6 linked regions of the Homo sapiens genome follow. The protein of the gene in region 1 interacts with the protein of each later gene in a pairwise test. Each region holds a gene or a part of one and is shown in the gene's direction. Other genes may lie near its edges.

Region 1 (3,500 bases):
GTGCCCGCCACCATTCCCAGCTAATTTTTGTATTTTTATAGAGACCGGGTTTCACCATGTTGCCAGGCTGGTCTCAAACTCCTGACCTCAAGTGATCCGCCCACCTCAGCCTCCCAAAGTGCTGGGATTACAGGCATAAGCCACCATGCCCAGCCTCGTACCTTGGCATTTTAACTTTCTTCCTGAAGTACTAACAAGAGCAGAGTGCCACAAAACCAAATAGAGATATTAGTCTACCCTTTCTTGCTTTTAGGCTCACAGTCTTATATGTGAAATTGTTAATTTAAAATGTAAGGTCTGAGGCCAGGCACAGTGGCTCACGCCTTTAATCCCAGCACTTTGGGAGGCTGAGGTGGGTGGATTGCCTGACTTAGAGGTTCAAAGATCAGCCTGGGCCACATAGTGATACGCTGTCTCTACAAAAACTAAAAAAAAATTAGCTGGGTGTGGTGGCGTGTGCTTGTGGTCCCAGCTACTTCGGGGGCTGAGGTGGGAGGATGGCTTGAGTCCGGGAGGGCAGTCCAGGAGGTCAAAGCAGCAGTGAGCGAGGATCCTGCCACTGCACGCCAGCCTAGGTAACCAAATAAGACCCTGTCTCAAAAATAAGTAAAATAAAATGTAAAAGCTGAACACGGTGACTTACACTTATAATCCCAGCACTTTGGGAGGCCGAGGTGGGAAGATTGCTTGATGCCAGGAGTTCAAGACCAACATGAGCAACAAAGCAAGAACCCGTCTTTACAAAAAAAAAAAAAAAAAAAGTTACTAAGCATCAATAGTATTTCATTAAAAATAGTATTTGTATGGAAACATAACACATATAGTGAAATTCCTTGTGTTTAGTTGTACCTCTGTTTCAGTTAAGAGACTGATTTGACTGTATTAATATTACGTATGATGTGTGAAAGCCATAACAGTGAAGTATGTACATAAAATAATATATTGATTAATTCCCCTCATCTAGACAGGGGTAAGCATGGTAAGCAGCCCTCGGAATTGTTGAAGAGTTCTCTGAAGAATTACTTATCTATTGTGTTTGCCTTGGGCCTTGCTTCCTGTCTTAGTTGTTTTTACTTTATGTGAATCCTGGGAGCCCACGTTGTGATGCTTTTAGTGTTTACATCCAGAATGTAAAATCATATTTTTATGAAAGACGTTGTTCCTTTTTGAGTTTAATGAATTCAGTTAAAAGCAAGAGTGTGTTTCTAGATGGGACTATCCTCATAGAAGTAGAATGAGGCAGAGGTTAGGTAGTTCTGTTTTGGAAGACGTAAGAGGGGGTTGTAAGTGATTTATAAATATTACTTAATCCTCATGAGATAGATACTGTTATTACCCTTATTTTATAGATGACTAAACAGAAGCACAAGAGATCAAGTGACTTGCCCAAGGCAATAAATAATGGAATCTGGTTTTAATGTCCCTGTATTGAAAGGGGGTAATACACTTTTGTTATTTCCTTGAGAAAAAAATATTAGAATAAATATTAAAATCTCTCATTTGATTTTTATTAGTGGTCAGTTTAGAATACTACTACTGTAGAAATATATACATTTTTCCTATTTGTTTTGCTTATGCATGTTTTTAAAAGAGCCCTTTTACCAGACAAAATTGCCATTTGAAATACTTAAAGAGGGGTCGGGCACGGTGGCTTACACCTGTAATCCCAGCACTTTGCGGGGGCCGAGGCAGGCGGATCATGAGATCAAGAGATTGAGACCATCCTGGCCAACATGGAGAAACCCCGTCTCTACTAAAAATACAAAAATTAGCTGGGGGTGGTGGCACGTGTCTGTAATCCTAGCTACCCAGGAGGTTAAGGCAGGTGAATCGCTTGAACCCGGGAGGCGGAGGTTGCAGTGAGCCGAGATCGCACCACTGCACTCCAGCCTGGCAAAAGAGCGAGACTCCATCTCCAAAAAAAAAAAAAAAAAAAAAAACTTAAAGAGGCTGGGCACCTTAGCTCATGCCTGTAGTTTCAGCACTTTGGGAGGCTGAGGCAGGAGGATCACTGGAGGCTAGGAGTTCAAGACCAGCCTGGGCAACAGAGCAAGACCCCCATCTCTAAATAAATAAATAAGAATTAAAAAAAGAAAAAATACTTCAAGAATTATATATGTCTAAAAGCAGATTGGTGGATTTTTTGCATATTTGCAGTTTAACTGCAACAACAGTAAAATTTTGTCAAATGTGAACTTTTGACATTTGGTTAAAACAAATAAAAGGGTATCTTTTATTTGTTTGACTCAGATTTTATGGTTAAGAAAATTACTTGTTGAGGCGGGTGCAGTGGCTCACGCCTATAATCCTAGCACTTTGGGAGGCCAAGGCAGGTGGATTGCTTGAGCCCAGGAGTTTTAAGACCAGTCTGGGCAACATAGCGAAACCCTGTCTCTACAAAAAATATAAAAATTAGCCAGGACTGGTGGTGCACACCTGTGGTTCCAGCTACTCAGGAGGCTGAGGTAGGAGGATTGCTTGAGGTGGGAGGATCGGGAGACGGAGGTTACAGTAAGCCGAGATTGTGCCACTCCACTCCAGCCTGGGTGACAGAGACCCTGTCTCAATAAATAAATAAAAATTTAAAAAACAGAAAATTACTTCTTGAGTAACATAAAAATGAACTAGGAAAAAATGAAATGTATTTGGCTTGTAGAAGTTGATTTCTCCAGGTCCTCCAGAAGAGGGCACTTGGTGTTTACAGTTTAAAACTTTAAAGAGCTTTTGTTTTTCTTAATTGTAGGTTGGGAGTCCTCCTCTTGATCCTACTGAGCGTTTTCTTCCTGAAGAAGAGAAACTTACTGAACAAGAGAGATCAAAAAGGTGAGTAGGTATAGAAATCAGCCCTTGCAAATATTTCCACATATCATAGATTAGTGATTGTTCAAAAAGTCACTTATAAAGGTTATAGAATGTGGATTCTGACAGGAGTAAAACCTCCATTTACCACTTACTTGTTATTTGACCTTGTTCAAACCTGAGACTCAGTTTCCTTATCTGTCAAATAGATACAATAAACAAATCCAACTCAAAGGGTTGGTGGGATAATCAAAATAAATATATATGAAATTTACTTATAAAACGTAAACCATGGTCCGGACACGGTGGCTTACACCTGTAATCCCAGCACTTTGGGAGGCTGAGGCGGGTGGATCACAAGGTCAGGAGTTCAAGACTGGCCTGACTATTATGGTGAAACCCCGTCTCTACCAAAAATACAAAAATTAGCCAGGCATGGTGGCAGGCGCCTGTAATCCCAGCTACTCGGGAGGCTGAGGCAGGAGAATTGCTTGAACCCAGGAGGCGGAGGCAGTGAGCCAAGATCGTGCCACTGTACTCCAGCCTGGGCAACAGAGCGAGACTCTGTCTCAGGAAAAAAAAAAAACAAGTAAACCATTACACAAATATTGGTTTATTTTTTCTTTACAGATTTGAAAAGGTTTATACTCATAACCTATATTACCTAGCTCAAGTCTACCAGCATCTGGAAATGTTTGAGA
Region 2 (5,208 bases), on another chromosome or scaffold:
CGTGCCCTGCAGTGTGTGCATTATACATTTTACAATGTGGCATGGTGTAGATCAGGGGTTGGCTAACCTTTTCTCTCAAGAGCTGGTAGCAAATAGTTTAGGTTTTGCCAGCCATACAGCCTCTGTCCCACATGGCTGTGTTTGAATAAAACTGGATTTAGAAAAGCTGGCAGTGGCCCAGATTTGGTGTAGCTCTCCAGCCCCTGCTGTTGATCACGTATCACACCTGGGCTGCCACATACAGAACCTGGCTTCATGGCTTCTGCAGCCACACGGGGGCTCTCAGGATGTGGCTCCCAAGCCGCAGTGCTCACATGAGCACCTCCAGCCCCTGTGCAGGCAGCAGGATTGCTGAGCCTGAGAGCCCCCACCCCTCTGAACCCTCAAAGAAAGATGCAGGTCTGTTCGTTGCCTGGTCTCCCAGGCTTACTGAGCCTGCGCTGGGGTCACCCCTCTACCAGCAGCCCTGGGGCCACACTGGGGCCAATACAGGCACTCAGGGCCCAGAGGCTGCCAGGAAGCTCTGTCACCAACATCTTCCCGAGGCAGGCCGGCCCCAAATGAGTAAGGACAGGGCTCAGCTTTTTTCTCCCCTGTGCTAAGCAAGGGAGGTTCACTTCCCTAGTGAGAACAATTAAAAAAAAAAAAAGGATTCCCAGCTGGGCTCAGTGGCTCATACCTGCTATCCCAGCACTTTGGGAGGCTGAGGAGGGAGGATTGCTTGAGGCCAGGAGTTCAAGACCTATCTAAGCAACAGAGTGAACCCTCGCCTCTAAAACAAATTTAAAAATTAGCCAGGCATGTTGGTGCATGCCTGTGGTCCCAGCTACTCAGGAGGCTGAGGCGGGAGGCTTTCTTGAGCCCTGGAGTTCGAGGCTGCAGTTAGCCCTGATTGTGCCACTGTACTTCAGCCTGGGCAACAAAGCAAGACAATGTCTCAGAAAAAAAAAAAAAAGAAAGAAAGAAAAAAGCATTCCCCATCTAACTCAGGGCTGCTGTATTTGCCAAGAAAAACCTACAGGCAAGGTCAAACCAGGATGTGAAGTTGTGGTCATGTAGAGAAGGTGAGCATGCCGGGGCAGCTCCCAGGAGGATGTTGTCTGCCCCGCCCCTCGCCCAACCTGGGACCCTCTGCAGGTTCACAAAGGAGGGCACATGTGAGCCCCTGGCTTCCCCAGTCAGTGTGTGGGGTCAGCTCTCAGCCCAGCCCCTTTCATCGCCACCAGATGCCCCTCCTCGCCCTTCCTGGTCCACATTTTACCATCAGCAGCTGGACACTAGCCCTAAGAGCCTAGAGGGGGTCTGTGAGTCATGGGTGGGGGCAGAGCAGCAAAGGGGTCCCATGTGGAGTGTTCTGCACCCCCTCCAAGGGCTGCAGAGACAGCGTCATGGACTCTGCCCTCTGCTGGACGGGTCCAGGGTGGATTGGGCACCCCTGCCTGCAGCTCTCTTCTGCCTGGTGCTGCTCCTTCCCTTCCTCCATGCCATCCACTTGGCTGGCCCAGTCTCCAGAGCTCAACAAGCCCCCAGGGTTGCGGGAGGGCTACCTGCTCTCTGGGCACAAAGCCCACCTGCCTCAGCTACTGAATGTGGAGGCTTTGGTCTGCAGTCTCAGGTTTGGGTTTTCATCCCGTTTCACCAGTGGCCTGACTTCTCAGCACACAGCTGGGCTGGGGGCACACGTGGCCTTGCTTCTTCGGGGCTCCTGACATCCCCTGCAGGTGCCCAGGCCTGGATGCCATGTGGTCACCCTATCAGGCCCAGCCAGGCGTCCCATCATGAGACATGCTCAGCGGCCCCCAGCCCATGGAGCCCAGGACCCAATCCAGACACTGGCCTGTAATTCTTTTCCTTTTGAAGACCTTAAATTAGAAGAAGCAACACGTGTTCCCATTTCTTGAAATTGGCAGATATTCGGATTTCATCGTGTTTGCTGCTGCCTTTTTTTAAAAAAACTTTTTTAAAAATGAAACCTTATAGACGAAAGTGGAATCCAATCTGAGCCCTCCATTCCTGGTCACATCTATGTCCTCTCCCCAGGCTACTTACTCCTGACTTTCTCCTTCCTATCTTTTATTTTTACCATTCTAACCACTTTCAAGTGTACAGTTCAGTAGTGTTAAGTATATTCCCATTGTTGTGCAACAGATCTCCAAAACTTTTTTTTTCTGAGACGGAACTCACTGTGATGCCCAGGCTGGAGTGCAGTGGTGTGATCTTGGCTCACTGCAATCTCTACTTCCTAGGTTCAAGTGATTCTCCTGCCTCAGCCTCCTCAGTAGCAGGGATTGTAGGTACATACCACCATCCCTGGCTAATTTTTGTATTTTTAGTAGAGACAGGGTTTCACCATATTGGCCAGGCTGGTCTCGAACTCCTGACCTCAAGTGATCTGCCCGCCTTGGCCTCCCAAAATGCTGGGATTACAGGCATGAGCCACCACACCTGGCCTCTAAAACTTTTTAATCGTTTAAAACTGAAACTCCATACCCAGACAACCTCCGCATTCCCCTTCTGGCAGCCCCTGGCAACCACCATTCTATTTTCTGTCTCTATGAATTTGATCAGTATGTATATCTCATATAAGTTATTACAGTATTTGTCCTTTTGTGATGGGCCTGCTTTACTTAGCATGATGTCCTCAGGGCTCATTCGTGTTGTAGTGTGCGTCAGAATTACCTTCCTTTTCGAGGCTGAATAGTATTCCATGGTATGTATGTTCCACATTTTGTTCATCCATTCTCCCATTGACAGACGTTTGAGTTGCTTCCACCTCTTGGCTATTGTGAATGATGCTGATATGAACATGGGAAAGCAGATATTTATTTTAGTCCCTGCTTTCAGTCTGGATATATATCCAGAAGTGGCATTGCTGGATCATATGGTAGTTCTGTTTTTAACCTTTTTTTTTTTTTGAGACGGAGTCTCACTCTGTCGCCCAGGCTGGAGCACAGTGGCGCGATCTCGGCTCACTGCAAGCTCCGCCTGCTGGGTTCACGCCATTCTCCTGCCTCAGCCTCCCGAGTAGCTGGGACTACAGGCGCTCGCCACCACACCAGGCTAATTTTTTGTATTTTAAGAGACAGAGTTTCACCGTGTTGGCCAGGATGGTCTAGATCTCCTGACCTCATGATCCCCCCTCCTCGGCCTCCCAAAGTGCTGGGATTACAGGCGTGAGTATTTTTAACTTTTTAAGGAACTTCCATGCTGTTTTCCTTAGGGGCTGCACCAGTTCCTATTCTCATCAGCAGTGCACAGTTTCCAGTTTCTCCACACCCTCACCAACACTTGTTATTTATTTTTTGTTTTGTTTTTTTCCCCTCCTTTTTTTTTTTTTGAGATGGAATCTCACTCTGTCACACAGGCTGGAGTGCAATGGCGCCATCTTGGCTCACTGCAACCTCTGCTTCCTGGGTTCAAGCGATTCTCCTGCCTCCGCCTCCCGAGTAGCTGGAATTACAGGTGTGAGGCACTGTGTCCGGCCTTCCTCCTACCTATTTTTATTCATAGATATAGTTCTTGAACACTTTCAGAATGTTATGTAATTCCTGCATAAGTGGTGTCACTTTACATACAACATTCTACAGGCTGTGTTTTTCCACTCCACGTTTGTTGTTTGCCGTCAGACCACATTGATCTGTATCTCTCATTGCGTGAGTAGCCCCGGGTTTTTATCCTTTTCCCTGCTGGTAGGCATTTTGGTTGTCTCTGCTGGGCAGTCATTGCTCTTTGTGGAATGCAGTTCTGGTTTTGTCAGATTGTCCCTCAGCCAGGTACTCGGTGATCAGTCATGGTGGGACAGGTCAGTTCTGTCACTGGTAATCCCCTAGGTTTGCAGTATACAGCCAAGATCAGCAAGCTAAAAATAGCAGTTCTTACGTAAGGTAGTGTGGGCAGCCCTTCTCAGGACACTTGTGATCTGCAGGGGCAAGTGGAACGGGACTCGAGGGCCCAGCATCTTCTGTTCTGCAATGCATCCACCCTCACACTGGGGCCCCACTCTGGCTTTCTACTGGTGGCCAGGCTCAGAACTGCAGCTCAGTGACCCAGAAACACTATGGGTGTGATCAGCTCAGCCCCAGGCGTGCCGTGTGTACCGGAATGCATGTGTGCACGTGGTGGTGGTGGGGCCAGCTCTCACCTCTTCCTCTGTAGAGGTAAGAGCTGAGTCATGCATGGTGGGCCTTGGGACCTGCTTGGAACCGTGCCAAGCTACTTATGAAGCATCTAGTATGTGCTTGGCATGGCTCCAAGAATTGTGGACACAATGAACAAGAAGAAGCTCCTGTTCTCATGGAGCTAAGAACTGAGCAGGGAAGCAGAAAACACACAAGCAATGAATAGACAAGCAAACAGCAGGTCCTGTTAAATCCCACAAAGAAAAACGATTGAATCCCAGAGAAGTGGCCAGCAGACCTTTTCTACAAAGGGCCAGGTGGTGAATATTTTAGGCTTTGTCACCATGTAGTCCCTGTCACCAACACTCAACTCTCCCATTGCAGTGTGGAAGCCACCAGAGACAATAATAAATGAACGAATGTGGCTGTGTCCCAATAAATCTTTAACAAAAGCAGGCTGAGGGCCGGATTTGACTCTCAGACCTTGGATTACCAATGCTTGTCCTGGGTGTGGGAAGAGGCTGCCTGAGCTGGGGTTGTCAGGGAGAACCCTTTCAAAAAGGAACTGAGAACCCGTTGCAGGAAGGAGCTGACCCTGGGACAGCCTGTCTCAGGTAGGACACAATGGCACCTTGCCACCGATATGGTGGCGGAGTTATGTGCTGAGAAATGGGCAGGCTAGATTTGAGAGGTAAAGATGATGAGATTTACTCATGGCTTGAATATTGGAGGTACAGGAAGGGGGAGATTCAAGGATGTGTCCTAGGTCTGGGGTTTGAACTCCTGGATGAATGGTGGTGTCACTGAAGGAGAGGAAGAGGTGCAGGTCTGCGGAGGTTTGTTGTTGGATGTGTTGAGTTTGAGGAGCTTATTAGACAAGCAGGTGAACATCTATGCTGACAGCCCTCCTAGAGCTTGGAGAGGCCAAGACTGGAGGCTTGGAATGGGGAATCTATGGCATTTATGGGGTCTTCAAGGTCGTGAGTCTGGTGGGCTGGTGTGTGTGTGGACCAAGCAGGGGGCGCCCGGCATGAGCTCTGAGTTAGTGCTTAGTGCTTAGGGCACCAACAGAGGGGCCTGTGTGGCCTCA
Region 3 (5,208 bases), on another chromosome or scaffold:
CCCGCCACTGTGAGGCCCTGAGAGGCCCTGAGATTCTTGCGATGTGTGAATAAGGGTGCCGCATTTTCATGTTGCACTGGGCACTGAATGGTGGAGCTGAGTGATGCGGTTTGGTTCTGTGTCCCCACCCAAATCTCATCTCAGATTATAATCCCCACCTGTCAAGGGAGAGACCCGCTGGAGGTGAGTGCATCGTGGGGCCATTCACCCCATGTTCTCGTGGTAGCGAGAAAGTTCTCACAAGATCTGTTTGTTGTTGTTTTTGTTGGTGGTGGTGGTTTTTAAGACGGAGTTTCACTCTTGTTGCCCAAGCTGGCTGGAGTGCAGTGGCACAATCTTGGCTCCCCGCAACCTCCACCTCCCGGGTTCAAGCAATTCTCCTGCCTCAGCCTCCCGAGTAGCTGGGATTACAGGTATGAGCCACCGCGCCTGGCTAATTTTGTATTATTAGTAGAGATGGGGTTTCTCCATGTTGGTCAGGCTGGTCTCGAACTCCGGACCTCAGGTGATCCACCCGCCTCGGCCTCCCAAAGTGCTTGGATCACGCGGTGGCGTGCGCCACCGCACCCAGCCTAAGATCTGGTTTTTAAAAGTGTTTGGCAGTCCCCCCCTCAAACTCTCTCCCCCGCTGCCATTTAAGACATGCCTTGCCTCCCTTTGCCTTCGGCCATGATTGTAATTTTCCTGAGGCCTCCCCAGCCATGTGGAACTGTGAGTCAATGAAGGCTTTTTTCCTTTAAAAATTACCCAGTCTTGGCCAGGCGCGGTGGCTCATGCCTGTAATCCCAACAGCTTGGGAGGCCGAGGCGGGTGGATCACTTGGGGTCAGGAGTTTGAGACCACCCTGGCCAACATGGTGAAACTGTCTGTAGTAAAAATAAAAAATTAGTCAGACGTGGGGCCAGGTATGGTGGCTCACACCTGTAATCCCAACACTTTGGGAGGCCGAGGCGGGCGGATCACGAGGTCAGGAGATCGAGACCATCCTGGCTAAAACGGTGAAAACTTGTCTCTACTAAAAAAAAAGAAAAAAAAGAAAAAAATTAGCCGGGCGTGGTGGCGGGCGCCTGTAGTCCCAGCTTCTCTGGAGACTGAGGCAGGAGAATGGCATGAACCCGGGAGGCAGAGCTTGCAGTGAGCTGAGGTTGCGCCACTGCACTCCAGCCTGGGCAATAGAGTGAGACTCCGTCTCAAAAAAAAAAAAAAAAAGTCAGATGTGGGATCAGGCATGGTGGCTCACACCTGTAATCCCAGCACTGTGGGAGGCCGAGGAGGGCACATTATTTTAGGTCAGGAGTTCAAGACCAGCCTGACCAACATGATGAAACCCTGTCTCTACTAAAAATACAAAAAAAATTAGCTGGGTGTGGTGTGCGCCTGTAATCCCAGCTACTCCGGAGGCCGAGGCATGAGAATCAGTTGAGGCAGAGGTTGCCGTGAGCCGAGATTGTGCCACCGCACTCCAGCCTGGGTGACCTACTGAGACTCTGTCTCAGAGAGAGAGAGAGGAAGGAGGGGAGGGGAGAAGAGGGAAAGGAAGGGCAGGGGAACCCAGTCTTGGATATTTCTTCTTTTTTTTTTTTTTTTTTTTTTTTTTTGAAACGGAGTCTTGCTCTGCCACCCAGGCTGGAGTACAGTGTTGCAATCTCGGCTCACTGCAACCTCCGCCTCCCTGGTTCAAGTGATTCTCCTCCAAAAGCCTCCAAGTAGCTGGGATTACGGGCAAGGGCCACCATGCCCAGTAAATTTTTGTATTTTTAGTAGAGAAGGGGTTTCACCATGTTGGTCAGGCTGGTCTCAAACTCCTAACCTCGTGATCCTCCTGCCTTGGCCTCCCAAAGGGTATTTTTGTTTGTTTTTGAGACGGAGTCTCGCTCTTTCGCCCAGGCGGGAGTGCAGTGGTGCAATCTCGGCTCACTGCAAGCTCTGCCTCCCGGGTTCATGCCATTCTCCTGCCTCAGCCTCCCAAGTAGCTGGGACTCCAGGCACCCGCCACCATGCCCGGCTAATTTTTTTTATTTTTGGTAGAGACGGGGTTTCACCATGTTAGCCAGGATGGTCTCGATCTCCTGACCTGGTGATCCACCCGCCTCGGCCTCCCACAGTGCTGGGATTACAGGCGTGAGCCACCACACCCGGCCACAAAAGGTATTTCTTTCTTTCTTTCTTTTCTTTCTTTTTTTTTTTTTTTTGTGAGATAGAGATTTACTCTTGTCGCCCAGGCTGGAGTGCAATGGCGCGATCACAGCTCATGGCATCCTCCACCTCCCGGATTCAAGCGATTCTCCTGCCTCAGCCTCCCGAGTAGCTGGGATTACAGGCATGCACCACCATGCCTGGCTAATTTTTGTATTTTTAGTAGAGACGGGGTTTCACCATGTTGCCCAGGCTGATCTCGAACTCCTGACCTCAGGTGATCCGCCCGCCTCAGCCTCCCACAGTGCTGGGATTACAGGTGTGAGCCACCTTGCCCAGCCCCCAAAGGGTATTTCTTTATAGCAGTGTGAAAATGGACAAATACAGTGGCCTCAAGTTCTCTCCTTAGTGGCACCTGAGGGAGTGTGGTGCTCTTGGAAATGCTCTCCTGTCACTCAGTTTCTGCCTCTGAAGCGACAAGCAGAACATGGATGTTCTCAGAGTCCAGGGCTGTGTAGATAGTATTGGAGCTGAAGGCAAAAGGAAAAATCAGAATATTGGGCCTGTCTTTATTTTAAAGGTTTGTGGGGGAGGGGGGGCGGTTTGTGTTTTGTTTGTTTGTTTTTCTGAGATGGAGTCTTGATCTGTTGCCCAGGCTGAAGTGCAGTGGCATGATCTTGGCTCACAGCAACCTCCGCCTCCCGGGTTCAAGTGATTCTCCTGCCTCAGCCTCCTGAGTAGCTGGGACTACAGGTGCGCACCACCATGCCCAGCTAATTTTTGTCTTTTTAATACAGAGAGGGTTTCACCATATTGGCCAGGCTTGTCTTGAACTCCTGACCTCAAGTGATCCATCCGCTTCGGCCTCCCAAAGTGCTGGGATTATAGGCGTGAATGACTGTGCCCAGCTATTTTAAAGTTTTATACTTTGTTCATTATGGATTTTTTTTACATGAATTCTGATTTTTTTAAAATATTGAATGAAAATACGATTTATCATGACCTGGGCATGGTGGCTCATGCCTGTAATCCCCGCAGTTTGAGAGGCCAAAGCAGGCAGGTTTGCTTGAGGCCAGGAGTTCGAGACCAGCCTGGGAAACATGGGGAAGACCCCATCTCTACAAAAAATACAAAAATTAGCCAGACGTGGTGGTGCACGCCTGTGGTCCCAGCTACTCAGGAGGCTCAGGCAGGAGGGTTGCTTGGGCCCAGGAGGTGCAGGTTGCAGTGAGCCGAGAGGGAGCCACTGTCCTCCAGCTGGGGCGATCCTCCTTCCCTGCCGGGCTCCCCCCACCCCCCCCCGAAGCCTCTGACCAGTTTTCCCTCCTGCTCCTCCCAGCAGGCCTGGTTTAGCCCCAGTGCTCAGCCCACTGTCCCCCAGAACCCCAGACACCACCCAGCCCTGGGATTAAGATTCTTCCGTCAGGGCACCACCTGGGAACTGTGTGCCCAGGAGCCCTCGGGCGACTTGAATGTGCTCTGCTGAGTCCTAGAGAGGCCCCGGTTCTAAGGACGTGTCTAGCTGCTTGGCCTGAAGCTCTGTAGCTGGAGTGTGGGTCCCTGTGACGCTGGAGGGCTGCAGGCCGGGGGTGCGGACCCCTCAGCAACAGGGCAGGCGCCAGGGGCACACCTGGCTGTGCAGCAGCTTCCTGGAACGCCCTAATGTTTATCCCCCATGGCAAGTCACGTAAGATGATTTTTACGTGGAAAGGGGTGCTTTATGAGAATGCACTATTTGAATGACTGTTGTCTTGCTTGCAGATCTAGGCCCCCGGGTCCTGAGGGAGGTGGTAGTAATAACAGTAGCACAGCTAGAGCCAACAGCCACTCACCACTCATCTGGGCCTGCTCTCAGCCTGCTGTCCTTTCATCTGGGCTCTAGCTCCACCCCTGGGTCTGGGATCCCAGCTTCTTACTATGCCTCCGCCTAGCCCAGACAGCAACGCCCAGTCATTGAGTGTCCGGCCTTCCATCCTACCCACCCTGGTGGGGAATGTGCTGGTTACTTATTGAACATGGGAAGCTATAAACAGGAGAGCAGCCACCTGTCATCACTTCCACCCACACCTCTGGTGCCTCTCCTGGCAGGCAGAGTGGCTCCTCACAGCCTGAAGCTCATCCTTCTGCACGGGCCAGCCAGGCCAGCACAGAGGCACCAGGGCAGCAGTGCACACAGGTCCCCGGGGACCCCACCATGTGGAGCGGATGGTGGCTGTGGCCCCTTGTGGCCGTCTGCACTGCAGACTTCTTTCGGGACGAGGCAGAGAGGATCATGAGGGACTCCCCTGTCATTGATGGGTGAGTGCTCACCTGAGCCAGGTGCTTAGGGAACCAGGACTGGGAACTGGGGCTGGGAGAGCGGGGCTGGGGGAGCCGGGGCTGGGGGAGCGGGGCTGGGGGAGCCAGGGCTGGGGGTGCCGGGGCTGGGGGTGCCGGGGCTGGGGGAGCCGGGGTTGGGGGTGCCGGGGCTGGGGGTGCCGGGGCTGGGGGAGCCGGGGCTGGGGGTGCCGGGGCTGGGGGTGCCGGGGCTGGGGGAGTTTGGCCTGGGGAGTTGGGGCTGGGGGAGCTGGGGGTGAGACTCGTGTGTGCTTGGCTTGGGGCTCAGTTTCTCTGGGGGTGAGACTCGTGTGCCCTTGGGTTGGGGCTCAGTTTCAGCTTCTGCGACGGTGCCGGGCCCTTGCCCTTTCCTGGCCCCTGCTGCTTTGTGGGGTCTCTCAGGGCCCCCAAAGACTTCAGCGGATGAAGGTCTGCAGGGACTGGGCAGGAAGGAGGCAAGGCCACACTCCCTGGTCCCGAAGCTCAGAGTGAGGTCTGAGCCTGCGGACGTGGAGGCCCTGCGCCCCAATCTCACCCTGTGCCTCAGCTTCTCCCAAAAGCAGCAGGTGCGGGTGGCACCCTACAGGCCCTCTCAGCCGGCATCTTTTTGGCTCTCTTCCCACTCCCCCCGGCCTGCCTTCTCCCGGGGGGAGGCCCATGCCACTTGGGCCCTTGCCTGTGCTGCGCTGTGTGCCCACCCGGCCCCCACCCCCGACCTCGCTGGGGCACCTGGGTCACCTGCTTCTGTCCTGACCT
Region 4 (5,798 bases), about 15 Mb from region 1:
CCTCAAGGTGCCCTACTCCAAGGAGGGCCCCAGAGAGGTAGCTCAGAGAGGTCTTAGAGAAGGCACTTTCAGGTTTTTTTGGAGACAGGACCCCAACCTCTAATAAGGGCCTTTGGAAATTCTCCATCCATAAAGCTTTGTTTTGCTTTATAGGGACAGGGTTGCTCTGTCACTCAGAGTGGAGTGCAATGGTGTAATCATAGCTCACTGTAGCCCCGAACTCCTGAGCTCAAGCCATCCTCCTGCCTCAGCCTCGCAAGTAGCTGGAACTGCAGGCAACCACCACCATGTTTGGCTATTTTTAAAAAATTATTTTTTGCAGTCAGGGTCTTGCCATGTTGCCCAGGATGGTCTCAAACTCCTGGCCTCAAGCGATCCTCCTACCTCAGTCTCCCAAAGTGCTGGGATTACAGGCCTGAGCCACTGCACCCAGACTAATTTCAATTTTTACTTATTCTCTCCTAACCCTATCTCGCCCCACCATATCTACTCAAGATGCCAGTGGGGACTGACCAGGGATGATTCCCAGCAGTAGACACTCAGTCGACTCATTCATTCATTCTTCACATTTGACCCTGAGGCATTGTTCTCTGGTCCAGCATGCCCTACCTATGTTGTTTGGCTTTTCTAGAAGGTTCCCCAGTCCTTCATGCCTGTGGCTCCAGGCAGGCCTAGACCAGTGAGGTATGACCTGCAAAGATATCTGGGGCCCCAGTGCACACATAAAATGCCTAGCTCGGAGCCAGGTCTGTTTCAACAATACTGGCTTCTCATTCTTTCCTTCCTTCCAATGCAGCCAGTAGGATTTTCTCAGTGCTTCCCAGCTATACTTCCACCTCCCCAAACCCAGCCGTCAGCTTGCCTGTTCCCACATCTCTGCTTCTTCCTCCTTGTGTCTTTTGCCCAAATGAACTTTACCCTTTAATCTTGGCCTTGCCCTGCTTTATCTCCTCTCATGAAGGCTTTTGTGATCTCGAAGGCATGAAAAAAGGACTGACATATGTATTAACCAACACCATAAGGTAGAAATTGAGACAGAAGGCCAGGCAGGGTGGCTCATGACTGTTATCCCAGCATTTTGGGAGTCCAAGGCCAGCAGATCACCTGAGGTCGGGAGTTCAAGACCAGCCTGACCAACATGGAGAAACCCTGTCTCTAATAAAAATACAAAATTAGCCGAGCATGGTGGCACATGCCTGTAATCCCAGCTACTCGGGAGGCTGAGGCAGGAGAATAGCTTGAACTGGGGAGGTAGAGGTTGCGTGAGCCGAGATTGCGCCATTGCACTCCAGCCTGGGCGACAGAGCGAGACTCCATCTCAAAAACAAACAAAAAAACAAAAAAGAAATTGAGAAAGAACAGGGAACGCTCTGGAGGGCGCAGCCATAAGCTCAGCCCTGCAGAGGGATTAGGCTTGGATGTAAGTGAGGACTCATGAGAGGAAAGGCCTGGGAAGTGGGCATTCCTGGAACAGAGTGGGTTGCTCTACCAGGTGAGTCAGAAGATGCCATTGAAAAATGCCTGAGCCTGAGGAATAGGAGATCGGCTTTTGTTCCAGCTCCATCCATAAATTACTGCATGGCCTCAGGCAGATTCTTAACTGTTTTTAGCCACAGTTTCCTCATCTAAAATGGAAAGGATAATGGTATCTAACTCATGGAGTTGTTGTAGGACTCATCAGAAGATCCCCTAGCACAGGGCCTGACCTCACTCAATATTAGCTATGTTGCTGATAGTGCTCTGGAGCTTGGTTTCTTTATCTGAAAATGAACTAAGTTGTCCTAGATCAGTATTTCCTGGTGTAAATTTTATCATGAGCCAGAGCATAACAGTGCATAAAGAGCCAGTGTATCAAGAAGTCATTTGTAGCAGCCAAAGCTCTTAGTGGGGCCGGCAAGGCTGGGCGGGTTCGGGGTCGGAGACTGACAAGACGGCAGGCAGCCCCTCTGTTCTAAGACAGTGTCCTAGGACATTTTTTATGCTCAGGTGCTCTATGGGAGACAGGAAATGCAGCCCTGAGGTTTATATTCGTGATATCTAACCAGGACTTATATAAAGGCCACAGACAAAAGACATTGACATTGCAGAAAAGTAAACGGAAGAGTCCAGTGGTCCCACTCCAAGGCGCATAACTAGTTAGTGGCAGATTCAGAACCAGAACCCCAACCCCATTTTCTGGTCCCAGATGGGGTTCTTCCTCTGACAGCAGGCGACTTCCCAAGCCTCATCCTTTCCCCAGCGCTTTGGAGTATACTCATGTGAGCCTGAGGACACACACACAGGCACCAGGCTTGTTGGGAACAGCTGCGGCTCAAATCCCTCCTCCTGCTCCCCTCCCCTGGTTATGCAACTCTTTTCCAATTAGGCTCTCAGCCACACACCATTTGGATTCCCCGACCTTAATCCTGTGCAATGGGGCTGAAATGAATGAGACAGGGCTCCATTCTGGCTTCACAAAGGCTGCATTGTCCAACTCGTGAATGGGTTCCTTCTGCTTGGGCCAAGAGGACCATTTGCAGCGGGGAGGCATCCAGAAACAGCCCAAGGTCCAACATAATAACCTGCATGTGCCTCCACGCACATGGGATGGCCCTTTAAAAGGGAGGGCCTGGCTGTGGGAAGCCAGAGACAGCTGGGCCACTGGCAGTGAGGGAGAGTGAGGATGGCAGAGACCAGTGCCCTGCCCACTGGCTTCGGGGAGCTCGAGGTGCTGGCTGTGGGGATGGTGCTACTGGTGGAAGGTGAGCCAGGCAGAACCTGGGGTGCAGCGGGGGCCCAGTGGGTTCTGAGGACCCAGGCCACCAGTGTGGAGCTGGCAAGGAGAGGAGAGGTCCCCAAACCCAGCTGGGTGTCCGGTCCCATTGGCTGCCTTCCCCTCTGTGCCCGGACTCGGGGGGTGTTCTGACAATTGAACCTGTGAGGTGCAGCACACTGCCCGCTGGGAGCAGAGAGGAAGCCAGGCAAGGGTCAGGGAGGGAGGGACTTTGAAAGGGGACATCTGCCCAGGAGATGATCAAGAGCCAGGCTTTAGGACTTTTCATGTCCCTCCAGCCGGGAGAAAATTTAATCCACTCCTTGGAAATCCTGCTGAGAATCCCACATAAGATCAGTCCCCCAAAAGGCTCTGGGGACAGACAGCTCTGCCTCCTGCTCTTGTGTGGCTGGAACCAAGTCCCTTCAGCTCTCTGCCCTCAATGCCTTGACATTCCGAATGGGTGGTTGTAAAGATTAAATGGGATAATGGGTATAAAGTGCTAGCCTAAATAGACTCTAGGGTATTTAAGTTCATTCACTCCCATCCTCTCCAGCCCCACCACTATTTTCACTGTGTCTACTCCTATGAGCCCAAGCACTTCACCTCTGGAGGCAACCTGGGTCTGCGAGGTACCTACCTCAACCTAGAATCCCTAAGATGCTCGCTGAGGCCAGAGCTAGAGACAGTGTCAATCCTGAATCTGGGCCAGCCCAAGCTAAATTGATGGAGAACGCAGCTTTGGTTCAAAGCAGACCCAGAGAAATCATCAGCACGTTTTCTCACCTAATGAGAACTGACAATGGAGAGGAAGTGACAGTCATTAGATTGGTCCTGAAGGCTCTGGACACGACTGTCTGGTGGCCCCAGCCCGTGTCTCCCTTTCCTGAGAACCCTACAATCTAGCATCCTTCCAGGTCCTCAAACATGCCATAAAATTTTACCACTTTATTTTTTGGAAGGGGTTTAAATTTACATTTTTATTTCATGTTTAATGACTAGAAATGTCATTATATACACAATGCTTTGGTTTTTATTTTATTTAAAATATGTTTTAAATTTCAATAGCTTTGGGGATACAAGTGATTTTTGTTTACATAGATGAATTACATCGTGGCAAATGCTAGGACTTTAGTGCACTCATCACCCAAGTAGCGTACATTGTGCCTCATTTGTAGGTTTTTTTAATCCCACTCCCTCTCCCACCCTTCCCCTTCTGAGTCTCCAGAGTCCATTGTGTCCTCTGAATGCCTTTGCGTACTCACGGTTTAGCTCCCACTTGTAACTGAGAACAAACAGCATTTGGTTTTCCATTCCTGAGTTACTTCACTTACAATAATGGCCTCCAGCTCCATCCAAATTGCTGTAATAAGACATTATTTCATTCCTTTTTACAGCTATTATTCCATGATGTATATATACTACATTTTCTTTATCCATTCATTGGTCAGTGGGCACTTACATTGATTTCGTATCTTTGCAATTGTGAATTGTGCCTCGGTAAGCATAGATGTGCATGTGTGTTTTTGGCTGGATTAAATGGCAGATCTACTTTTAGTTATTTAAGGAATCTCTATACTGTTTTCCATAGAGGTTGTATTAATTTACATATTCCCACCAGCAGTGCATAAGCATTCCCTTTTTACCACATCCATGGCATTGATCTATTGTTTTTTGACTTTTTAATGATGGTCATTCTTATAGGAGTAAGGTGGTATCTCATTGTACCATAGCATGTCTTTGCACATGCTATTCCCTCCTGGAATGCTCTTCCATGCACTGTCCTGCAGGTAAGTGCTTCTCATAGTTTTGAAGGCAGGATTTTTTCCTGTTCCTCACTTTAGATAGGGGAAGCTGAGGTTCAGAGAGCTTAAGGAGCAGCAAGCGAGGCAACCAAGCCAAAATTCAAGGTCGGGTCTCTCTGTTGCCAGAGTACGCCCCCTTCATGTTCACTTCCATGCCTGGCGTCCTGGGCAGCTCCCAGCTCTAACATCGACTCTTCTCCTTGGAGCCTCTCTGACTTTGCTCTACAGTCCTTGGAGAAGGCATTTTGAAATCCAAAAGGCCTGAATTCAAGTTCCAGCTCCACCGCTTACTAGCTGTGTACTTAGGGCAAGTTAGCTAGTGTCTCTGAGCCTCAGTTTCCCAGCTATAAATGGAGAAGAGAGTATCCAAGTAAAGATTGAATGAGATGACTCATATAAAGTGCTTATCCTGGTGCCTGGTGTGTGCTAAGTGCCTGGCAGCTGTCAGTGATTATGACTGTTATAGCATGAAGCATGCTACCCTATATTGATTGTCTTCCTTGTCTGTCCAGGAGGTTGCTGATGTTCCATCCACCCCACACACACTGTTCTGACCCCAGCTGGGCCTCAGCAGCCCCAATGCCAGCCCCCACCCTTCCTTTCAGCTCTCTCCGGTCTCAGCCTCAATACCCTGACCATCTTCTCTTTCTGCAAGACCCCGGAGCTGCGGACTCCCTGCCACCTACTGGTGCTGAGCTTGGCTCTTGCGGACAGTGGGATCAGCCTGAATGCCCTCGTTGCAGCCACATCCAGCCTTCTCCGGTACCAGCCCCCTCCCCAGTCCACAGGCTCTGGGGTCCTGCCTGGGGCCTGACCCCTGGGCCCTGGGCAGCCAGGCCAAGGGCATTTTTACTACTTACAGAAAATTGGCCAAGGGCAGAGGGTGGGCAGGCTAAAATGGGCTGAATTCCAGATTGATTCTGAAGAACGACAGCTGATTTCTGGAAGACAGGGGTTGCTGAAACCTGATGAAAGAGATGGTAGGCTGTAGAGATCAATGGTGTGGGTTCTGTAACCAAGCAACCTAGGTTTGCATTCTGGCTTCAGCATTTCTAGTTCTGGGCTTCTTCCATAAATCGGATATTATTTCCTAACTCATATAGGTGGTTGGAAGTATTTACTTCTATTATGTGTAAATAACTTAAAATAATGCTTGATACCTAGGACTCTACGTAAGTGTTTGTGAACACAAATGGGGGCGTTATCACCACTACTGCACCCGTATGTATCTGGGCTCCTGG
Region 5 (5,208 bases), on another chromosome or scaffold:
ATGTCACTGCTCTTTTCTGGTTGTGCTTTGCCACAAATTTTATTGTGAATTGTAAAGATTTGAAACTCTTAAAATTAGCCATTTATATTTTGAAAAAAAGGGGTGTGATTATTTTAAAAAAAAAACATTTTAGCATGCAAAGAATAACTTGCACAATGGATAGAATATATATTGATTAAGGTTTAGGGTCAAGAGGTATTTCTCTAATCTGGTAGAAAAGTTTTCTCCTCAGGATGTAATCTTTGGGGCATGAGGGAAGACCAGTTTGGTTCAAATGATTTAAGACCCTGATGTGGTAGCACAACTTTCTTAAATATGGTTAACATCTCAGCACACAGATATACACCATCTTGTGTTGTTAACTGAAGGGTACATGGCCACCCTCTAAGAAGCAGGTCAAAAGGGATGGCTCATCCTCTCCTTCCTTAAAAAATAGGAGAAGAAAGTCAGTACTTTTTAATAATCAGGTATTGATATGATAGGATCACTCTCTGGTGTCTTTCTCCAATCTGCTGCTTCTCATTATATGAATATATTTGGTAAATTTTAATTTGCATTGATAGCATGTTGGGCATTGTTTTTGGAAGCTAAGGTTTTCCTTGTTCTTCAAGAAAACCTCTGATTTGTGGAATATTGATATAAAAATAACTTATTCTGTGTCTACCTCGGTGAAAGTACTGGAATTATAGGACTACTCACTTTTCATATACTTTAGATTTGGGAAGACCATGATGAAATAAGATGAATTACATATACTTAGCCATGTATTTCCTCCATTTCTTCTGAATATTACTTACACATTTAAGTTAAATATTAGAATTATACATTATTCTCTTGAATTGGGAAGGTTTATTTTTTAATGCATTTCTTCTTATAGCCAAAGGCAAATATTTATAAGACTGTATGTTCACATAAGGTGATTATATCAGGTTTTGTCACTAGCTTTAAATCCTCAATAGAGTATATAAAGAATACTTTCCAAATAATGTTCTAAGTATTATCATTAATAAATATGGTTCTTGGGTAATTAAAAAAATATTTTACATCCAAAAAAAAAATAAAAAGGTGATATGATTTAGAGTATGGTCTTTTCCCCCCACCAGTTTCTGTTTATGTTCTTTTTAGGTAAGGTTCACTTATAAAATTTTAAATCATAATGCATGGATCATTAGTTTTATTGTAGAACTGTACACATATTTTATTATTTCAGTTACCACTGTTGGGAATAGGACCTGATAATATTTGAAGTGTCTCAGATTCACATTTGACCTTTCAATGTCAGGGGTTAACTTGACAGAGGAGGGAAAATATTGGCTGTAATCACATGAGCGCAAAAGGAACATATCAACAGTCATAATTTATATTATTTACGTATTTCCAGCAATACATCTTACCCATTTTATGCTGATTGGTTGGATTTCCCAGTGCTTATTACGAATGCATCAGGAAGTCTTAACAATTGGCATCAGCAGGATTCTTTATAATGGTTGAATTCTCATCATAGTTTGATTTTTGTTTGTGTTTTTGTTTGTGTTCTTTTTGTTTGTTTTTAAATACTTTTAGCCCTGGCTTGAAAAACAGTCCAATTGATGAAAGTGAGGTGCAAACAGCAACTGATAGTCCCTCTGTTAAACCTAATGAGCTTGAAGAAGAAAGTACTCCCAGCATTCAAACAGAAACTTTGGTACAGCAGGAAGAGCCTTGTGAGGAAGAAGCTGAAAAAGCAACATGTGATTCTGACTTTGCTGTTGAAACTTTGGAGCTTGAAACTCAAGGAGAGGAGGTCAAAGAAGAAATTCCTCTTGTAGCATCCGCTTCAGTCAGTATTGAACAATTCACTGAAAATGCCGAGGAGTGTGCTTTAAATCAGCAGATGTTTAACAGTGACTTGGAGAAGAAAGGGGCAGAAATTATTAACCCTAAAACAGCATTGTTACCATCTGACAGTGTGTTTGCAGAAGAAAGGAACCTCAAAGGAATTCTAGAAGAATCTCCATCTGAAGCAGAAGATTTCATTTCTGGAATTACACAGACTATGGTAGAAGCTGTAGCTGAAGTAGAAAAAAATGAAACTGTTTCGGAAATATTGCCATCAACTTGTATTGTGACGTTAGTACCAGGAATTCCCACTGGGGATGAGAAGACAGTGGACAAAAAGAATATTTCTGAAAAAAAAGGTAACATGGATGAAAAGGAGGAGAAGGAATTTAATACTAAGGAAACCAGAATGGATCTTCAAATAGGAACAGAGAAGGCTGAAAAGAATGAAGGTAGGATGGATGCAGAAAAGGTGGAAAAGATGGCAGCAATGAAAGAAAAGCCTGCAGAAAACACTTTATTCAAGGCATACCCAAATAAAGGAGTGGGTCAGGCTAATAAGCCTGATGAAACTAGTAAAACTAGTATTCTGGCTGTATCAGATGTATCTAGCAGTAAACCAAGCATCAAGGCTGTTATAGTCTCTTCTCCTAAGGCAAAAGCTACAGTTTCAAAAACTGAAAATCAGAAAAGTTTTCCAAAATCTGTGCCCAGAGATCAAATAAATGCTGAAAAGAAACTTTCAGCCAAGGAATTTGGTCTGCTTAAACCCACAAGTGCCAGGTCAGGCTTGGCAGAAAGCAGCAGTAAATTCAAACCTACTCAGAGCAGTCTTACCAGAGGAGGCAGTGGAAGGATCTCAGCCCTGCAAGGCAAGCTTTCTAAACTGGATTACAGAGATATAACAAAACAATCTCAGGAAACAGAGGCTAGACCTTCCATCATGAAACGGGATGACAGCAACAATAAGGTGAGGAGGGTAGGAAGAATGGCACAGTGTGTCTTTGAAGTGATTAGCTCCGCTGCTGTAGCTATGTAGTAGGAGATGTAATTTTGTTTCATACTTTCATCTCCTCACTCTACCCCGGAAGCTCCCATTTCCTTTTCTTAAATGATTCCATTGTTTAAGCCAGTAGACATTCAGAGTATTAAACTCAAGTTCATAATTTATTGACATGTTTGAAAAGCATTATTTGGATACAATTTGGAAATAACTGTGGTTTAAAAAAAAAAAAAAAAAGTCTGCAGTGAATCTCCTAAGGTGATTTACCACTCTGCTTCTGAATGGGAAACTGTTTCCTCTCTTAAATTGAAGCTTCCTTTATCAGGTCACTGATTGCCTAACTAGACATTGTGGGACGAAAAGATCAGTAAAACTGAATTTAACTACAACTTGTACAGACTGTGCCTATACTGTTTAGTGACTGTTGACTTAGTTTTGTATACATGTTAAATAATTTGCATAATTGACTGTATTTGGGTAATGTTTACTGTTTTTTTTTGTTTTTTGTTTTTTTTTCCAGAACATTAATAATATGGTTGTAAATTCCGTTTTTCTGTATTTCTTATTTACTATTTCAGACTTTGGCTGAGCAAAACACTAAGAATCCTAAAAGCACTACTGGTAGAAGTTCCAAATCTAAAGAGGTAAAAAATAGATCACAGACCCTAACCCTTCTTTTTCATCTCCATAGCACAGTTCATCTATCTTATAACTTGTGCCTGCCTTAACAATGTTAGTGACTAAGAGTTTAGAGCAAGGGATAGGAATGAGATGTTTTGTTTTTAACTTATCTCTAATCCTACCATTAATTTACTTTTTGACCTTGAGCTAGTCTAAACACCTTGTGTTTTCTTGAGGCGGGGGGAGCGGGCAAAATGTTATATGGGGACAGAAAGAGAGTAGAGTAGGGCAATACCTCCAATCTCATATTGACAGGAATAGGTTGTAGACACAGAAAAAAAATTTATATATGTGAAAGAGACTGACATTTGACTTGAGTCATCCTCATTTTGTTAAAACAGGTTATCCTTTTGGCTCTAATTTAACCTTAAGTGGATGGTCTCTAAGATTAACTTTACTGGTACCAAGTTCTGTTGTCAAACATATTTTATATTTGGTTGTTATTTTAGGTTTTTACCATTCATAGAATTTTTTTCAGTCATTTTACTTTTCTTACCTGGTAGGGGATAGATTTGGGCCTATGTTGTTGGGGCAAGGAGAAATGTTACTAGTTTTAAGCAGAAATAAGGATTATGGCTACTAAAGCAGAAATAAGGATTATGGCTACTAAAGCAGAAGTAAGGATTGTGGCTACTTCAGTTTGCTTTGTTAATTTGATAGTACAATCGCTTGTAGATATTCTCCCTAGAAATTACAGGGTACATATTCTAATGTCGTTATTATATATAATAGCAGTTAATCATTAATAACATACTAAATGTATAGGAGCCCTGGTAGGAATTTATCTTCTTTACTATTGACGGCATTTTTAAAAATTACAGATACTGTTGTTTTCAAATACAGTTATGTTAGTCATTGAGTCTTAGTAATAATTTTTTCATACAACTTTCTCAAAATGTAACCATTATATTTCTTTTATTATTATTATTATTTTGCAACGAAATCTCACTCCTGTCCCCCAGGCTGGAGTGCAATGGCGTGATCTCGGCTCACTGCAACCTCTGCCTCCCAGGTTCAAGTGTTTCTCCTGCCTCAGCCTCCCGAGTAGCTGGGTGGCATCTGCCACCACACCCAGCTAATTTTTGTATTTTTAGTAGAGCTGGGGTTTCACCATGTTGGCCAGGCTGGTCTCGAACTCCTGACCTCAGGTGATCAGCCTCCCAAAGTGCTGGGATTACAGGCATGAGCCACCACGCCCGGCCTGTATTTCTTAAAATATGTATTCTATATATAATTAGTTAATGTGTAATCAATATATACTGATAAATGGAACAGCCTAATTAGCTGTTTACTTTCTAACTATATTTGAGGTGCTTTTAGAAGTCCAGTAAGTCTTCTAGAGCACTTATTAGATGTTTGACATATGGAACAGTAAATCCTTTGTACTGTCTGACAAATACTTTAAATGTATTTTTATGTGTCATACTTCGAAACTCTTCATTTAGGAAATGTAATCTTATTGAATTTAAGTAAAAGTGGAATTAGGTTGATACTGTTAGAATTTTACTTTTGGATTATACTTTGTGAATTATAGCTAAGTCATTTGTGGGGCTTTAAAAAAAACAACTCTTAATTTTAGCCTTTAGGAAAACTAATTTGCACTGAAATTCTCCCAAATGATCTGCATGCACATTTATTGTGACTATTTGGAATCTAGCCAGTGGTCAAAATTTGTTTACAATACTATGATTTTTAACTTTCCAACA
Region 6 (5,046 bases), on another chromosome or scaffold:
GAAATTAAAGAAGGCAGTCAATATGGAGAAACCTTCAGCCAGGATTCAAATTTGAATCTGAATAAGAAAGTTTCTACTGGAGTAAAGCCATGTGAATGCAGTGTGTGTGGAAAAGTCTTCATATGTCATTCAGCCCTTCATAGGCACATCCTGTCTCACATTGGAAACAAACTATTTGAGTGTGAGGAATGTCCAGAGAAGTTATATCATTGCAAACAATGTGGGAAAGCCTTTATCTCTCTCACCAGTGTTGACAGACACATGGTAACACACACTAGTAATGGGCCTTATAAGGGTCCAGTGTATGAGAAGCCTTTTGATTTTCCTAGTGTATTTCAAATGCCTCAGAGCACTTACACTGGAGAGAAAACATATAAATGTAAACATTGTGATAAAGCCTTCAATTATTCAAGTTATCTTCGTGAACATGAAAGAACTCATACTGGAGAGAAACCCTATGCATGTAAGAAATGTGGTAAATCATTCACTTTTTCCAGTTCTCTTCGCCAACATGAAAGATCTCATACTGGAGAGAAACCCTATGAATGTAAGGAATGTGGCAAAGCCTTCAGTCGTTCCACTTACTTGGGAATACATGAAAGAACGCATACTGGAGAAAAACCCTATGAATGTATAAAATGTGGCAAAGCCTTTAGATGTTCCAGAGTCCTCAGAGTCCATGAAAGGACTCACAGTGGAGAAAAGCCCTATGAATGTAAACAATGTGGTAAAGCCTTCAAATATTCTAGTAACCTATGTGAGCATGAAAGAACTCACACTGGAGTGAAACCTTATGGATGTAAGGAATGTGGTAAGTCGTTTACTTCTTCCAGTGCCCTTCGAAGCCATGAAAGGACTCATACTGGAGAAAAACCCTATGAATGTAAGAAATGTGGTAAAGCCTTCAGTTGTTCCAGTTCCCTTCGAAAGCATGAAAGAGCTTATATGTGGTAAAAAACAACAACAACAAAACACCTCTGTCAATGTAAGAAGTGTGTTAAAGCTTTCAGTTATTCTAGTTTCATTAGAACACGTGAAAAAATTAAAAACTCAAATTAGAGAGAAACCCAACACATGTAAGGAAGATTAGAATGTATGCAATTTTCCTAGTTCCCTTCTAAAACTTAGAAGGACCCGTCCTGGGAAAGAACGTCATAAAATACGAAAAATGTGTTAGAACACTTTATTTTCCCAGCCGCTTTCAAATATATTTTTATCAGTGGTTCATTGTTAAAGAAGGTGTCTATACTTTAGATTTTCAGTTTTTTGCAGGGAATCATGGAGCTGAGAATTTCACAGATACTTTATAAGCCATAGTACATGAGCTTAATAGGCTGTGTTTTGTTTCTCATCAGTTAACATAATTTTTGTCTATTCATTTAAAAATTTGTTGGATCCCTAGACTAAGTTGAAATGTATTTCTAATAGTAGGCAATTTTAATTTTCATGTAGTTGTTTAATTGTTCTCTAATTAATGGACCAATGAAAAATGAGTTCATGTGTGTGTGTGTGTGTGTGTGTGTGTGTGTGTATTCTACCTTTTTATGGGAAAACTACTTTTTTGTTGTAAAGATTTTCTTCTGTTTTCTTTGCTAATAAAGAATTGTTATTAATTTGCATGTATGTGAAGTTTATATAGTCTCATGTACATTGTTATTTTCATTTTCTTTCCTTTATTCTGTCATGAGTTTTGGCTGTTACTTGCATAGTTCACTTTTTTAAAAAATGTTATGTTTTTAGAGAGGGTCTCACTTTGTCAGCTAGGCTGAAGTGTAGTGGTAATAATAGTCTTAGCTCACTGCAGCCTCAAATTCCTGGGCTCAAGTGATTCTCCCACCTTAGCCTCCTATGTAGCTGGAGCTACAGACACATGCCACCATGCTCAGCTAATTATATAATTTTAAAAATTTTTTATAGAGATGGGATCTCGCTGTATTGTCTAGGCTGGTATTGAATTCCTGGCCTCAAGCTATCCTCCTGCCTCAGCCTGTCTACATGTTGGGGTTACTGACATGAGCTACCACACCTGGCCCACTTTTTACTTTGAATTAAGAAGAGAGAACTGTGATTGGACAGTATGCTTGTCTAATCTGCGTGTGAAAGCATTCAGTCTCACCATCAAGTATATTGTGGATTTTTCATAAATATTCTCAAACAGGCTCAGGAAGTTTTCTTGTGTTTTTTATTTATTGTTTCATGGTAAAGGAGTGTTGAACTCTTATGACATGTTTTTTTCTGCATCTATTGAGATGATTTGTGGTTTTTGGCATTCTACTGATAGTCTATTACGTTAACTGGCTTTCAGATATAAATATATTATGGTTATCTGGGTGAAATTTGTCTTCATCATGGAATATAAGTATTTTATCTACAGGTTGAACATCTGTAAACCCCAGATTCCAATACCAAATCTGAAATGCTCCGAAGTCAAAAACTGTTTGAGCACCAGTCTTATGCTCAACAGAAATGCTCATTAGAGGATTTTTGATATTTGGATTAGGGATGCTCATCCAGTAAGTTTTCTGCAAATATTCCAAAATGTTAAAAGTCTGAAATCCAAAGCACTTCCGTTCCCAAGTATTTCAGATAAGAAACACTCAACCCATATTGATAACGTTCAATTTTCCAGTGTATTGTTGGGGCCTTTTGCATTTATAGTCAAATTGGTGTGCCCTAGTATACCATATAGTATAGCATCATCTGTATATATAGCATGTCTACATGTATACTTATATGTGTATAAGTAGCTATATAATATGTGGTATAGTACAGTTTTGTAAGTTACTATGAATTATGCATAACTAGTTTATATTATGTGTAATTAGCACTACAATAAATTGTATATTACAGGATTATGGCATTATAACATACTATTTTGATCTTATCAGTCTGTAGCCTAACATATTTCAGTTGCCTACCATTCCACAGATGCATTTAAACAAACCAATTGCATCCTTATGAGAACCAAGAAGCATCTCACGTTCTTGATACTACAAAGCATTCCCCTTACACCCTGTTTGTTCTATCTGCTCCGTAGTGCAAGTCTTGTGTGGACCAGCCTCGTTTACAGAACCCTCCCTTTTTTGTCTATGAATGTATGTAACTAATAACTTCTCTCAATCTTATCTGTACACTCATGGGTGTCACGTGTTTTTCCCAGTAGTCTTAGGGTCCTAATTTTTCCTGTCACCCATGAGACTGTGAAAACAATTGGCATTACCAACAGAATGAACCAACCATGACTGATGATATCTTTTCAGCTTTAACTACCTGCTTTTGTCTAACTGGTTCCATAATATAACAGAAGTCACCTGAATTAGAAACAGCAATTGATGGTGGACTTTCACTTTGGTCTACACAGTGCTTTGTGTTATCAGCTGTTGCCACCTCTTCCCACAGTAGAACTCTCAACTCCTAGACATGACTGGTTGACCAGCCGTTCCCCAGGAGGATGTATGTTCCACCTTGACCTGTGTTTGGCAGGCAGTTTCCAAGGTACCCCACATTGAGGCAGTGACCCAGCACCTTCACCACTGGGTTCTTTATTCCTGATTATCAAAAGTCAGACTACTGCTCTGTGGTAACTGCATCTCGTTTGGTTGCCATCACTGGATGCTTGGAGTAGCCATGTGAACGTTATTACTGTACACACTTGGGACAGCTCCAGGGATTTTGTGTGTGTGAAGTTGCAGAAAGGAAGAATGTCCCCATGCTGGGGAGAATTAAGCATGTCACCTAATTGTGTAACAAGATGACTTGTGCAAGACTAGTGGCCTTGAGTGTTTTCTTGTGCTGTTGCTTTTATGTGCATTCTTCTGATGAGGTGCACATCCATGGTGCCTCTTGGTCCAGGCACTGATGAGTCAAGAAAAGGGGAGGAAGCATTTGGCATTAGCCTCTTTCATTGCAGAACCTCTATCTAGTATATGGGCTTCTTTTAGCACTACTGATCAGCATGCCAAAGGCCTAACCTTGCAACCTAGATGACCTTAGTCAAAATGACCTTACTGTATGTTGCTAACACCAGCAAGATTGAGTGGCACTCACTGGAGGATTAGGTGTTCTTCAATGTGGGTTGACGGACTCCTGAACTGTTTTCTTTAACCACACAGATTGCCCACACTACCGATAAATCAAATGCTGCTACTTTGCATGAGAAGAATTAAAAGATAGTCTGAAGCAGTTTTTATAGAAAGAAGACAAAAGCAGTCATGAGTCATGCTGTGGTCCAGAAACCTAATAGCAGATGGCCAACTGGGACACTGAAATTTCTGTACTGCTACTGCCTATGTTTCTATCACAACAAATATCCTGATCCCTCACTGTTAAGGATTCAGAACTGTCCTCCAAGTTTTATTGGACTGGTCCGGTTCTACCCTCTTTCTTACTTGCAGTTTTCAAGAATAAGTGTAGAATGTGCTGGGAATGGAATATCCTGATATCAGAAGAGAATGGTAGAACAGCCCAGACTTAACAGTCTTCACAAGAAATACAATCTCTCAACACTTTTGGTCAGTGAGTCAGGTGATCCTGGGCTATAAAACCTGGGCTGGGCTATTTTCTGGAGTCTCTTAACTGTGTTGCAAGTGGGGCACATGCAATCAAAATTCCATCCTTCCAGGCAACTTCTCTGAACCTCAGGGGGACCACATCACACTGAATTTTAGACTTCTCATCTTCGATCCCTTTATAAGTAATAAATCAACTTATGTAATATGTGCATGAATGTGTTCTCTCTCATCATACTCAGACAAGCTGATAACAGTACACAGTGAGCCTGCTTTGGGGAGAAACAACCATGGTACCCATATGACACAGCAAAGGAGTTAATTCAAACATAAACCTAGAATTCTTTTTTTTTTCTTTTTGAGACGGAGTCTTGCTCTGTCGCCCAGGCTGGAGTGCAGTGGCACGATCTCGGCTCACTGCAAACTCCACCTCCCGGGTTCATGCCATTCTTGCCTCAGCCTCCCAAGTAGCTGGGACTACAGGCGCCCGCCACCATGCCCGGCTAATTTTGTTTTTGCATTTTTTGTAGAGATGGAG

Evidence for each region.
Region 2: the proteins of KIFBP (region 1) and PLEKHF1 interact in a two-hybrid assay, tested with the Homo sapiens proteins (one large-scale study listed by BioGRID and IntAct).
Region 3: the proteins of KIFBP (region 1) and DPEP1 interact in a two-hybrid assay, tested with the Homo sapiens proteins (one large-scale study listed by BioGRID and IntAct).
Region 4: the proteins of KIFBP (region 1) and RGR interact in a two-hybrid assay, tested with the Homo sapiens proteins (one large-scale study listed by BioGRID and IntAct).
Region 5: the proteins of KIFBP (region 1) and ZNF638 interact in a two-hybrid assay, tested with the Homo sapiens proteins (one large-scale study listed by BioGRID and IntAct).
Region 6: the proteins of KIFBP (region 1) and ZNF670 interact in a two-hybrid assay, tested with the Homo sapiens proteins (one large-scale study listed by BioGRID and IntAct).

What each region holds. Positions count from the first base shown.
Region 1 is NC_000010.11:69,002,303-69,005,802, forward strand, and holds part of KIFBP (KIF-binding protein), read left to right. Parts: intron 1-2,743; coding exon 2,744-2,823; intron 2,824-3,429; coding exon 3,430-3,500. UniProt on the Homo sapiens protein: Activator of KIF1B plus-end-directed microtubule motor activity. Required for organization of axonal microtubules, and axonal outgrowth and maintenance during peripheral and central nervous system development.
Region 2 is NC_000019.10:29,667,781-29,672,988, forward strand, and holds part of PLEKHF1 (pleckstrin homology domain-containing family F member 1), read left to right. Parts: intron 1-5,208. UniProt on the Homo sapiens protein: May induce apoptosis through the lysosomal-mitochondrial pathway. Translocates to the lysosome initiating the permeabilization of lysosomal membrane (LMP) and resulting in the release of CTSD and CTSL to the cytoplasm.
Region 3 is NC_000016.10:89,626,081-89,631,288, forward strand, and holds part of DPEP1 (dipeptidase 1 isoform a precursor), read left to right. Parts: intron 1-2,874; exon of another isoform or gene 2,875-2,889; intron 2,890-4,189; exon of another isoform or gene 4,190-4,224; 5' UTR 4,225-4,330; coding exon 4,331-4,434; intron 4,435-5,208. UniProt on the Homo sapiens protein: Hydrolyzes a wide range of dipeptides including the conversion of leukotriene D4 to leukotriene E4. Hydrolyzes cystinyl-bis-glycine (cys-bis-gly) formed during glutathione degradation.
Region 4 is NC_000010.11:84,242,429-84,248,226, forward strand, and holds the start of RGR (RPE-retinal G protein-coupled receptor), read left to right. Parts: upstream 1-2,624; 5' UTR 2,625-2,662; coding exon 2,663-2,741; intron 2,742-5,162; coding exon 5,163-5,319; intron 5,320-5,798. UniProt on the Homo sapiens protein: Receptor for all-trans- and 11-cis-retinal. Binds preferentially to the former and may catalyze the isomerization of the chromophore by a retinochrome-like mechanism.
Region 5 is NC_000002.12:71,421,251-71,426,458, forward strand, and holds part of ZNF638 (zinc finger protein 638), read left to right. Parts: intron 1-1,563; coding exon 1,564-2,788; intron 2,789-3,399; coding exon 3,400-3,465; intron 3,466-5,208.
Region 6 is NC_000001.11:247,033,357-247,038,402, reverse strand, and holds the end of ZNF670 (zinc finger protein 670), read left to right. Parts: coding exon 1-954; 3' UTR 955-3,766; downstream 3,767-5,046. UniProt on the Homo sapiens protein: May be involved in transcriptional regulation.